Linked DNA regions of Homo sapiens: region 2 is reported to be linked to region 1. Evidence: microRNA targets listed by miRTarBase, many of them from high-throughput screens and not tested one by one. Region 1 holds a microRNA gene; the other region holds the end of a gene's coding sequence.
What was found. The annotated mature microRNA hsa-miR-1301-3p reads UUGCAGCUGCCUGGGAGUGACUUC and lies in region 1 at 4,253-4,276, opposite strand. An mRNA with a match to its seed (bases 2 to 7 or 8) in the 3' UTR can be bound and repressed. Matches are read on the target gene's strand: a 7mer-m8 pairs with bases 2 to 8, a 7mer-A1 pairs with bases 2 to 7 and ends in A, and an 8mer does both.

Region 2: miRTarBase lists TNXB as a target of hsa-miR-1301-3p. The part of its 3' UTR that is shown has no 7-base or 8-base seed match.

The regions. Positions count from the first base shown.
Region 1 is chr2:25,324,399-25,332,199 of GRCh38, forward strand. It overlaps MIR1301 (microRNA 1301), which reads right to left and starts at 4,323; the gene lies at 4,242-4,323. The region is part of intron 1 of DNMT3A (DNA methyltransferase 3 alpha); the gene reads right to left. RefSeq lists enhancers at 5,627-6,127, 6,128-6,628.
Region 2 is chr6:32,038,502-32,041,501 of GRCh38, forward strand. TNXB (tenascin XB) reads right to left here. Exons shown (of 44, transcript NM_001365276.2): 44 at 2,652-2,949. The coding sequence ends at 2,848. CYP21A2 (cytochrome P450 family 21 subfamily A member 2) reads left to right here. Exons shown (of 10, transcript NM_000500.9): 1 at 1-123; 2 at 221-310; 3 at 593-747; 4 at 855-956; 5 at 1,045-1,146; 6 at 1,248-1,334; 7 at 1,504-1,704; 8 at 1,905-2,083; 9 at 2,167-2,270; 10 at 2,368-3,000. The coding sequence ends at 2,633. Among named protein-coding and RNA genes, the nearest start is that of CYP21A2, 1.6 kb to the left of the region's middle.

The DNA.
Region 1 (7,801 bases):
CTCAGAACCCTTCGCAAATGTGGCAGTTCTTGGTCATGAATGAGCATGCTAAACACACATCTCAGAGCCAGCGCCATGATCGATGTTTGTGCCTCTGGGGTGACCCTGGCCCACAGATAACAGTCCCATGGCTAAATTTCCTATTTGAGCTTAGGAGGAGGTGCAAATGTGGGTGACAGAAGGCAGCAGAGTATCTTGTGCCCCACCCCCACCCCCTGCCCAATCATCTGCTAGGGTAGGGGTCAGCTAGGGGCCAGGAGAAAGTGGAGGAGACCTCCTAGACGGAGATGTCTATCTGTCAACTCTTCCCCCTCCTGTCACAACCTCTCTTGGTCATAAGACTGGGGATGGATAAGGAGGAGGGAGAGGGAGGGGGGTCTTGGTGCCATTTTCCAGTGAGATGGCCATCACCATTCCATTGCCCTGACTTTCAGAAACATTACTTGCACCCAAACTACCAGCTGTCCATAGAATACCAAAAGCCACTGGTGACAGGCCAGCAGTCCTGCCCTCTGCAAAGCTGATTTATCTGGCTCTAGAGTCACAATAAGACGGCTTGTGGCTCTCACACCACTCTCGAGGCCATGGCACCACCAGCACTGGCACCACCAGCACTGGCACCACCAGCAGGAGCACTTATGATCACACCAAACCTGCTGCCACTACGGCGGCCACATGGGAGTCTGAGTCAGACTGCTTTGCTCACACTAATGGTTGCCATGACACAGCCCCAAAAGTGAGCGGGGGGGGGATTTATACCTAAAATAGATGCTGTTAAGGAGCTGAAGTTGTTCTCAGGAGCCAAAATGAGCCAACACAGACTTCCGTAAGGCAGCACCGATTTCCAAGTGCTGCAAGCCAGGAGAAGCCCTGTCTAGGGGTCACACGTGCTGTGGGTCAGATGGGCTTCCCACGGCCTGGGAGTCAGGGGCACAGGGTGGCACAGAGTCCATGTGAGAATCAGACACATGGTCCTGGATGGGGTCTGGCAGTGACCAGCATGGGTCTGATTTTATCATCCACAGCGGAAGCGGCCCACGGTCATCTGCATGTTTCTCTACTTTTCCAACCTTCTCTACAGCATGGTCCACAGCTGCCAGCTCCAGAGCCTCTATCACTTAGTCCCCTGCGCGTGGCCCTGTTTCCCCACCCCACAACTCTAAAACCTTCTGGGGATGCTGACCTCGTCCTCGGGGGAGAGTGCTCCCACCAGGGACATATTATAATGCTTTCCCTGGGAGAGAAGACACACACACCCACTTGGCTTTCTCGAACTCCTTACGCCACTGAACTGACAGTGGAAAAAAGGAGTTATGCCACTGTCTGGAGTGATTGATCCTAGTTACCAAGGAGAAAACTGGATTGCTGATCAGCCACAGAGCCAAGCAAGACTGTGTCTGGAACCCAGCGAATTCTCTCAGGCACCTCTTAAGAACGTCCATGCCCAAAGGAAGGCTGAATGGAAAGTTATGGTAACAACAACAAAAGCGGGATAACTAAGGATTCAGGTCCTTTGGGAATGAGGGTTTGGGTTACTCCACCAAGTAAAAGAAGCATGACCTGCTAAGGCTCTGGCTGAGTGTGGAGGAAACACAGAATGGGATAAGAAGACAATGAAGCCAGGTAGCAAGTGTAAAGTGTAGCCTTGTGAACAAATGCAGAAACCAGGCCTCTAGTGGTTTTGCACATTTTCTATTAACTTGATATATATGTGTGTGTGTGTGTGTGTGTGTGTGTGTGTGTGTGTGTGTGTGGTGTGTTTGCAATATGGTAACCATTTTCTTCTTTTTTTCTCCTTCCCATTCTTTTCTATACAAGTTGTTGACAGTTAGCTTTATAATGTAGTCTTTAGGTAACAGAATATTCAGTGAGACTGTGACTGACTTTGAGAAGTTATTGTAGCCAGGGATTGGTAGAATGATGGTTGGGGCTCTCTGGGCAAAAGGGTGAGAATTTCATAAGAAGGATAACTATCTTGATAGGTAGACATCCAGTTGTTTGTTTTTGTATGGGAGTTCAGATGTTGTAGAAAGGTGCAAATGGAAGCTGTGCAGCCAAAGGGGTAAACTGTGCCAGTTATCAGTTTATTCGCCCATCATTGCCTGTGCTGTGAAGATGGAGCTGGGCCCTTTAACTACTTTTCCTTTGTCAGCTGGCACAACTGTGGAGGGCACTGAAGAGGCATTGAAGGAGGAGGTGGGTTTCCTTTCTAGACCCAGTGTGCTCTTGTTGGGTTCCTGCATTGTATACAACTTCTCTAGCAGCCAGATCTTGCTGCATGGGCGCTTCCCAGCATCAGGGTCTTGCCAGATATGAAGCTTCCCAGCACCCAGCTCCTGTGCTGCTGCAGCTTCTCCAGCATGCAGCTTTCCAGTGCCCAGCTCCTGCAGGAGTGCCAGGCTGTTGCAATGCAGACAGCTTCTCCAGCACCTGGCTCCAGCAACACGTCAGTCAGGAGTACCCAACAGCCAGGAGCTTCTCCCAGCACTCCCCTGGGAAAACGTAGCAGCGGTGTGCTTCCAGCAAGATACCTCCCACAAACAACTTTCCTTGGGACCCAAAAAGATGGATTTCCAGTAAATTCCAGAGGGTGGATTTCCAGCAAGTTCTGCCAACATGGCATTACAGAGACGTTGCCATCCAGGGAGCCATCGCCACACCCTCTCCATCAAGGTGTGGATCTCAACCCTGCGGGGCCTCTTCCTTGGGCACTCTGTGGCAACCCTAGAGGTAGGGGCTGTTCTCATATCTATTATTTTTGTATTCTTTGGAGTTATTTTTACTTCTTACTAGCCAATTCCTCATTATTCCAATCCAATTAGAGTTAATAATTCGTTATGTGAAACTTTCCTTGTTCCAATCACCATGTGGTTTCTGTCTTCTGAATGGACCCTGACTGATACAGTCACCCGCGGCCCCAAAGGGCTTTTTTCCATCCTCATGGCCCTTGAGCTCAATTCAACATCCTGGCCAGCTAATCACTCCCTGCTTCAAGCACTCACTCAACAGCCATTTCTTGAGTGCCATTGTGGAGCCGGGCCCTGGAGTGAAAGGAGACCCCTGCTTCTGGAGCTCACCAGCAACTGCCTTCTGTGTGTTCTCTCCCAGCCATGACTCCATCTGGCTCCTTGCTTCTGGGTCTCCAGCCTCAGATTCTGCAGCTTTGTCTCTGGGGCTGTCCGGGAGTCTTGATCCCACTTCTGCACGGTGGGTGCTCCTCAAAGGTCATGTTCTACCTTCAGCTTCTCTCTAAATGCTCTTCCTCTAAGACACCTGGGCATAAGTTAACATACGCCTCCTACTGCCAGGGGCTCCAGCTCTATTTATTTTCATCCCAACTGGATGACTTGCAGTCCCTAAAATCCTACTCTTCCAGAACATGCTTCTTTCAGAGCCGGCTCTATTTTCTGGTTTTTCCCTCTATGTGGAAGTAACATTCCCCTCCCTTCAGCTGCCTAAGTCCCAAACCCTGGAGAAAACTCAGGTCCCACCTTTCCCCTGGGTCCTCACATCCAGCAGGTACCTGGTCCTTGGGCTTCTCTCGTCCCCCTATTCCCTCCAGGCCCTTTGTACCTCTTGTGTCTGTGGCACAATAACCTGGTAGATGCCCTGGAGCGGGTCCACCTGCCTCTGGCATCTCTACCTCCCACCCCACCCTATCAGCAAGGATTGCCCACACATGGCTCCCTCTATGAAAACCTATGACACCTCATGACAATTTTAAAAAGTTGATTGTGAATGTACTAAAACCATCGAACTGTACACTTATATGGGTGAACTGTATGGAATGTGAATTATATCTTAAAGCTATTATTTTTAAAAATCCGGTGATGCCAAAGATTTGCACACGTGGTAAAATATACGCTCTGGCCTGGTCTCACCAGGGCTGGCTACAACGCAGCCTCCGCCCACTGCTCTGGCCGTGCCCCCACCTCTCCCAGCTGCATCATTCCAGGCCCGGCTGCTGTCCCGGAATGACACCCCTGGCTCCCACCCTCTCCCACAGGGCCCACTCAGCTCCTCTCTCCCAGTCCTTCAACCCAACATCTCTCCTCCCCCAAAACACCGTCCCCTTCTCCTCGACCACCCACCCAGGGGTCATTGAGTGTTCCATGCGTATATAGATGTGTCTGATTTCTCAAAGAGACGAGGTCAGAGTTCATGCGTTGTATCTTGCTGCCCGTCCCCCCCGCCCACAGCTTGTCCCCCGCAACCCCGTTCCGGGTGACCCTGGAGGCAGAGAGGACTGTGTGAAGTCACTCCCAGGCAGCTGCAACATCCCCAGCACAGTGCTGCGGTGCCTAGAGCGACCCCCCACAATCCCCATTCTAGGGGTCGCTTGGCAGAGCCCCCAAGGCACTGCGTCAGTGGAAAGGCTGTTTGCAGGAGCTCCGAGGGCAGAACATACACCTGCTGTGGGTCTGCAGGCTCACCTGCCCCAGATCCCCAAGGTGAAGGGGTTGGTGAGGGCCTAGGCTATCAGTGAACCACAGGAATCAGGGGGGCTGAGTCCTTGTCTGGCCTGTGACCACCCTCTCCCCACACCGTCCATGGCCACAGTCCCCCAACCCCACTTCCTAAACCAGCTCCCTCTTGGGTCAAAACCAGGAGGTCCCCCAAAGGGTCTTCAGGGCTTGGGAGCGGCTGTTGGAGCTCGTCCCCCACCACCCCAACCAATTCAGCAGGAAGGGAGCTCGCTGCTCTCAGATTTCCCACAGGGCCGCCTTTCTCCTCATCGTCTGTCCCAACAAAAACAAACCATTTGTGGAGGGGGCCGAGGGAGGGAGAAGAGCCCAGGGTTCTGAGCAGCACATCTCAGAACCATGGGCCCTGCCTCCAGCAGTCCCTGCCTCAAACCCTGGCTCTGTCACTGAGAGATTCGGGCCTCAGTTTCCCAAGTTGTAAAGCGGGGTGAGAAAGAGTCCCTATTTCATAAGTCTATTTTAAGATAGGAGGGAATCTGAGTCAAGTGTTTAACATAGGGCCTGGCACGTGGCAGGTACTCAATAAATGATCATTTAAAAATTATTATGTGCTTGATCAGAAAGAAAGGCAAGCCATATGTTCTTAGGAAACCTAGACTCTGGCTTCAGACCACACTTCAGAGTGGCTTGTGCTCACTCCTAGGAACGGCTGCTGTGCCAGGCTCCCCCTCCCAGCTGATGCCCCTAAGTCTCCAGCCCAGGCCCCGTGCCACTAGAATGGGGAATGTATTTACCAGAGAATGTCTACCTGCCACTGTGGCCTCAGGAGTCTCTCACAGTCATGCAGACCCCACACACACACACACACACACACACACACACACACACACAGACACACAGATACAAACACACATAGATGCACACACAGAGATATACCTAGACAAATGCAGAGATGACCCAGGCGCACAGGTTCACACACGCACACAGCCCCCCTCATGCTGCACACGCTGGGGCACCTGGAGCCAGAGGATGCTGGGCGGGCCTTCCGACACAGGCACACGCGTTGCACATTTCACCTACTGTATGGGCCAAAGAGGCATTTGGAAACCAGCTTGGGAACCTCATAACCATTCATAACATTGTTCTGAGAGAAAACACAAAACATTGCCCTATAAACAAACATTTGCAATAGAATTCCTCCAAAAGCTTGGAAATGCCTGTACTAGAAAACTAACAGAGCAAGAAGAGAAAAACCACATAAACTTGGTTTGCCTCTGCAAAATTAATACCAATTACAAAAACATTTATGTGAACTGCTTACCATTTACACCTAATTACCATGCAGCACAATTATGCATATCATTAAGGGTATGCCAGATTAATTATGCTGTACATTTCATTTGATTACAACGCCACACCCTGAGTTCATGTATGCCCCACTTCCAGGGGGCCAGTCCTGCAGCATGGCTGCTTGCACAGGTCTGCACAAACCAGAGAAACGTGGATTTCCACACTCGGATGGACCGCAGCCCCCACCCCACCCCCAGCCAGAGACAGCCCGACTCCCACCCGGCCTTCTTGGCAGCATCAACAAGAGCCCCGCTGCGAAGCCATCTTCCCAGCAGATCCTCCAGAATGCAGAGATGCTTCAAAGGTCTCCCCAGGGGTGTGGCTGCATGTCACAAGGCCACCATACAGCCCAAGGGCCATCATGTACGGCCCTCACAGAGGAAGCGGCCCTCTCTGCCATCTCCTGAGGTCTGGCTCGGAAAGCAGGGCAGCCTAGCCCATGTCCAGGCCAAGTCCTTCCCAAGCTCATCTCCCAGACCCACCAGGGCTCTGTGCCCCTATCCCCTGGCACACTGAGCCAGCTACAGGGCAAGGTCCCAGCTGTGGTCCCACTGGGTCCTGCAACATCCCCCCTGTCCCCCATGCCCTCTGCTCTCCCGGACAGCTCTGCACAGACCCTCCCTCCCCTTATTAAAAAGAAAACAGGAACTGACCCCCAATAACTCCCATTTAGCTCAGTAGATGCTCTTCAAATACACTGGGTGAACCAGGTTTGCAGGGAATAATTGGGAACAAGAGAGTCAATAGAACATGACGAATGGACCTTCCCAGGAAGGGGGAACTCAAAACTTGGAGTTTTGGAGGGAACAGGAGGAAACAGGCTTCTTGGGAGGCAAAGAACCAGAGGAAGTGCAGAAGCGAGGGAGGGAAGGAAAAAATATCCAGGTTTAGTCCAAGAAGCAATGCTCAAAACAAACAACACCAGCCTGTGAAGTTATGTCCATTTTACAGATGGTAAAACTGAGCCTAAGAAAGGTTGAGTGATCTTCCAATGACACGCAGCAAGGAGGTGGCAGGGGTGAGGTGAAACCATCATCTGTCCAGTCCCCAGCCTGGTGGCCCCAGCACGATGCCACACTGCTCCTGGCCTCTATCTAAATTCAATGATGCTGACATGGCTCACGTCATTTTTTGAGAAATTCTTTGGAAATAGCCTTCCACATTATCCTTCACATAACACACATAAGCCTCCTTTCTATTTTAGAGGAACAGTTTTTGCTTCTTTTCTGTTTGCTTTCCAAAAATGCTGTCCCCAGCTTGTCCCTCCTATCTCTCTCCGCAGACCTGCCTCTGAATGGAGAGTGACGGAAAGGCTGGACAGCTTGACATCAACTTCCAGCCCACCCAAAGATTCTCAGACGGTGATGATGCTCGCCGCAGGTCCTGGGTGGAGGGCCAGGGTCTAGGCCTTGCAGCTCATCTTTTGGGGAAATCACTGTGAAGTAGAGGCGCTAACTCATCAGCATTCCCAATGCAAGGGTGCGAGCACCTTCCTCAAAATCTTCCTTCAAACATCTGCAGGGGTCGTACCAGTTACAGACTGAAATGCACCTGCCTTTCTCATCCATCGCACAAGGCACCCCGCCTCCAGGCCTTATGACTCAGGCTCCAGCCTCCTTCTGCAAGCCTGGCCTGGCTCAGCCTCCCCCTGGGGAAATCCCACCCGCCCTCAAGCCCCAGCTACAACCCAGCTCCATGTGGGAGGCACCTCCTGCTCTCTCCGACTCCCCCCAACCCATGCCCCCTCCATGAAGGGCATCCCCACCCACACAGTTGGCTGAGCTAGAAACCAGACAGCCACCCCAACTCCCCTCATTGCTTTTATCCCGCCTGTTCCTACTGACTGCACTTCCTAAATGTCACACCACGCACACCCTGTCCAGGCCCACATTGCTGCCCCGGACTTCTGTGCCAGCCTTCCACCCGGGCTCCCTGCCCCTAAACCCTATTGCCCGAGCTCTCGTCCTCGATGCCCTAGAATGATCCTTCTCAAATATAAATCCCAAGCCCAACGTCCGTTCATAACA
Region 2 (3,000 bases), not on the chromosome of region 1:
GCCTCCACCTCCCGCCTCTTGCCCCGGGCTTCTTGCACCTGCTGCAGCCCGACCTCCCCATCTATCTGCTTGGCCTGACTCAGAAATTCGGGCCCATCTACAGGCTCCACCTTGGGCTGCAAGGTGAGAGGCTGATCTCGCTCTGGCCCTCACCATAGGAGGGGGCGGAGGTGACGGAGAGGGTCCTCTCTCCGCTGACGCTGCTTTGGCTGTCTCCCAGATGTGGTGGTGCTGAACTCCAAGAGGACCATTGAGGAAGCCATGGTCAAAAAGTGGGCAGACTTTGCTGGCAGACCTGAGCCACTTACCTGTAAGGGCCGGGGGCATTTTTTCTTTCTTAAAAAAATTTTTTTTTAAGAGATGGGTTCTTGCTATGCTGCCCAGGCTGGTCTTAAATTCCTAGTCTCAAATGATCCTCCCACCTCAGCCTCAAGTGTGAGCCACCTTTGGGGCATCCCCAATCCAGGTCCCTGGAAGCTCTTGGGGGGGCATATCTGGTGGGGAGAAAGCAGGGGTTGGGGAGGCCGAAGAAGGTCAGGCCCTCAGCTGCCTTCATCAGTTCCCACCCTCCAGCCCCCACCTCCTCCTGCAGACAAGCTGGTGTCTAGGAACTACCCGGACCTGTCCTTGGGAGACTACTCCCTGCTCTGGAAAGCCCACAAGAAGCTCACCCGCTCAGCCCTGCTGCTGGGCATCCGTGACTCCATGGAGCCAGTGGTGGAGCAGCTGACCCAGGAGTTCTGTGAGGTAAGGCTGGGCTCCTGAGGCCACCTCGGGTCAGCCTCGCCTCTCACAGTAGCCCCCGCCCTGCCCGCTGCACAGCGGCCTGCTGAACTCACACTGTTTCTCCACAGCGCATGAGAGCCCAGCCCGGCACCCCTGTGGCCATTGAGGAGGAATTCTCTCTCCTCACCTGCAGCATCATCTGTTACCTCACCTTCGGAGACAAGATCAAGGTGCCTCACAGCCCCTCAGGCCCACCCCCAGCCCCTCCCTGAGCCTCTCCTTGTCCTGAACTGAAAGTACTCCCTCCTTTTCTGGCAGGACGACAACTTAATGCCTGCCTATTACAAATGTATCCAGGAGGTGTTAAAAACCTGGAGCCACTGGTCCATCCAAATTGTGGACGTGATTCCCTTTCTCAGGGTGAGGACCTGGAGCCTAGACACCCCTGGGTTGTAGGGGAGAGGCTGGGGTGGAGGGAGAGGCTCCTTCCCACAGCTGCATTCTCATGCTTCCTGCCGCAGTTCTTCCCCAATCCAGGTCTCCGGAGGCTGAAGCAGGCCATAGAGAAGAGGGATCACATCGTGGAGATGCAGCTGAGGCAGCACAAGGTGGGGACTGTACGTGGACGGCCTCCCCTCGGCCCACAGCCAGTGATGCTACCGGCCTCAGCATTGCTATGAGGCGGGTTCTTTTGCATACCCCAGTTATGGGCCTGTTGCCACTCTGTACTCCTCTCCCCAGGCCAGCCGCTCAGCCCGCTCCTTTCACCCTCTGCAGGAGAGCCTCGTGGCAGGCCAGTGGAGGGACATGATGGACTACATGCTCCAAGGGGTGGCGCAGCCGAGCATGGAAGAGGGCTCTGGACAGCTCCTGGAAGGGCACGTGCACATGGCTGCAGTGGACCTCCTGATCGGTGGCACTGAGACCACAGCAAACACCCTCTCCTGGGCCGTGGTTTTTTTGCTTCACCACCCTGAGGTGCGTCCTGGGGACAAGCAAAAGGCTCCTTCCCAGCAACCTGGCCAGGGCGGTGGGCACCCTCACTCAGCTCTGAGCACTGTGCGGCTGGGGCTGTGCTTGCCTCACCGGCACTCAGGCTCACTGGGTTGCTGAGGGAGCGGCTGGAGGCTGGGCAGCTGTGGGCTGCTGGGGCAGGACTCCACCCGATCATTCCCCAGATTCAGCAGCGACTGCAGGAGGAGCTAGACCACGAACTGGGCCCTGGTGCCTCCAGCTCCCGGGTCCCCTACAAGGACCGTGCACGGCTGCCCTTGCTCAATGCCACCATCGCCGAGGTGCTGCGCCTGCGGCCCGTTGTGCCCTTAGCCTTGCCCCACCGCACCACACGGCCCAGCAGGTGACTCCCGAGGGTTGGGGATGAGTGAGGAAAGCCCGAGCCCAGGGAGGTCCTGGCCAGCCTCTAACTCCAGCCCCCTTCAGCATCTCCGGCTACGACATCCCTGAGGGCACAGTCATCATTCCGAACCTCCAAGGCGCCCACCTGGATGAGACGGTCTGGGAGAGGCCACATGAGTTCTGGCCTGGTATGTGGGGGGCCGGGGGCCTGCCGTGAAAATGTGGTGGAGGCTGGTCCCCGCTGCCGCTGAACGCCTCCCCACCCACCTGTCCACCCGCCCGCAGATCGCTTCCTGGAGCCAGGCAAGAACTCCAGAGCTCTGGCCTTCGGCTGCGGTGCCCGCGTGTGCCTGGGCGAGCCGCTGGCGCGCCTGGAGCTCTTCGTGGTGCTGACCCGACTGCTGCAGGCCTTCACGCTGCTGCCCTCCGGGGACGCCCTGCCCTCCCTGCAGCCCCTGCCCCACTGCAGTGTCATCCTCAAGATGCAGCCTTTCCAAGTGCGGCTGCAGCCCCGGGGGATGGGGGCCCACAGCCCGGGCCAGAGCCAGTGATGGGGCAGGACCGATGCCAGCCGGGTACCTCAGTTTCTCCTTTATTGCTCCCGTACGAACCCCTCCCCTCCCCCCTGTAAACACAGTGCTGCGAGATCGCTGGCAGAGAAGGCTTCCTCCAGCGGCTGGGTGGTGAAGGACCCTGGCTCTTCTCTCGGGGCGACCCCTCAGTGCTCGGCAGTCATACTGGGGTGCGAGAGAGGTGGGCAGCAGCTCAGCCTCCCCCCGCTGGGGAGCGAAAGTTTCTTGGTCTCAGCTTCATTTCCGTGAAGGGCACCGAGAACTCGAAGCCCTTCCAGTGGTACCAGCTCACTCCCTGGGAAAGGGGTTGTCAAGAGAGAGTCAAAGCCGGATGTCCCATCTGCTC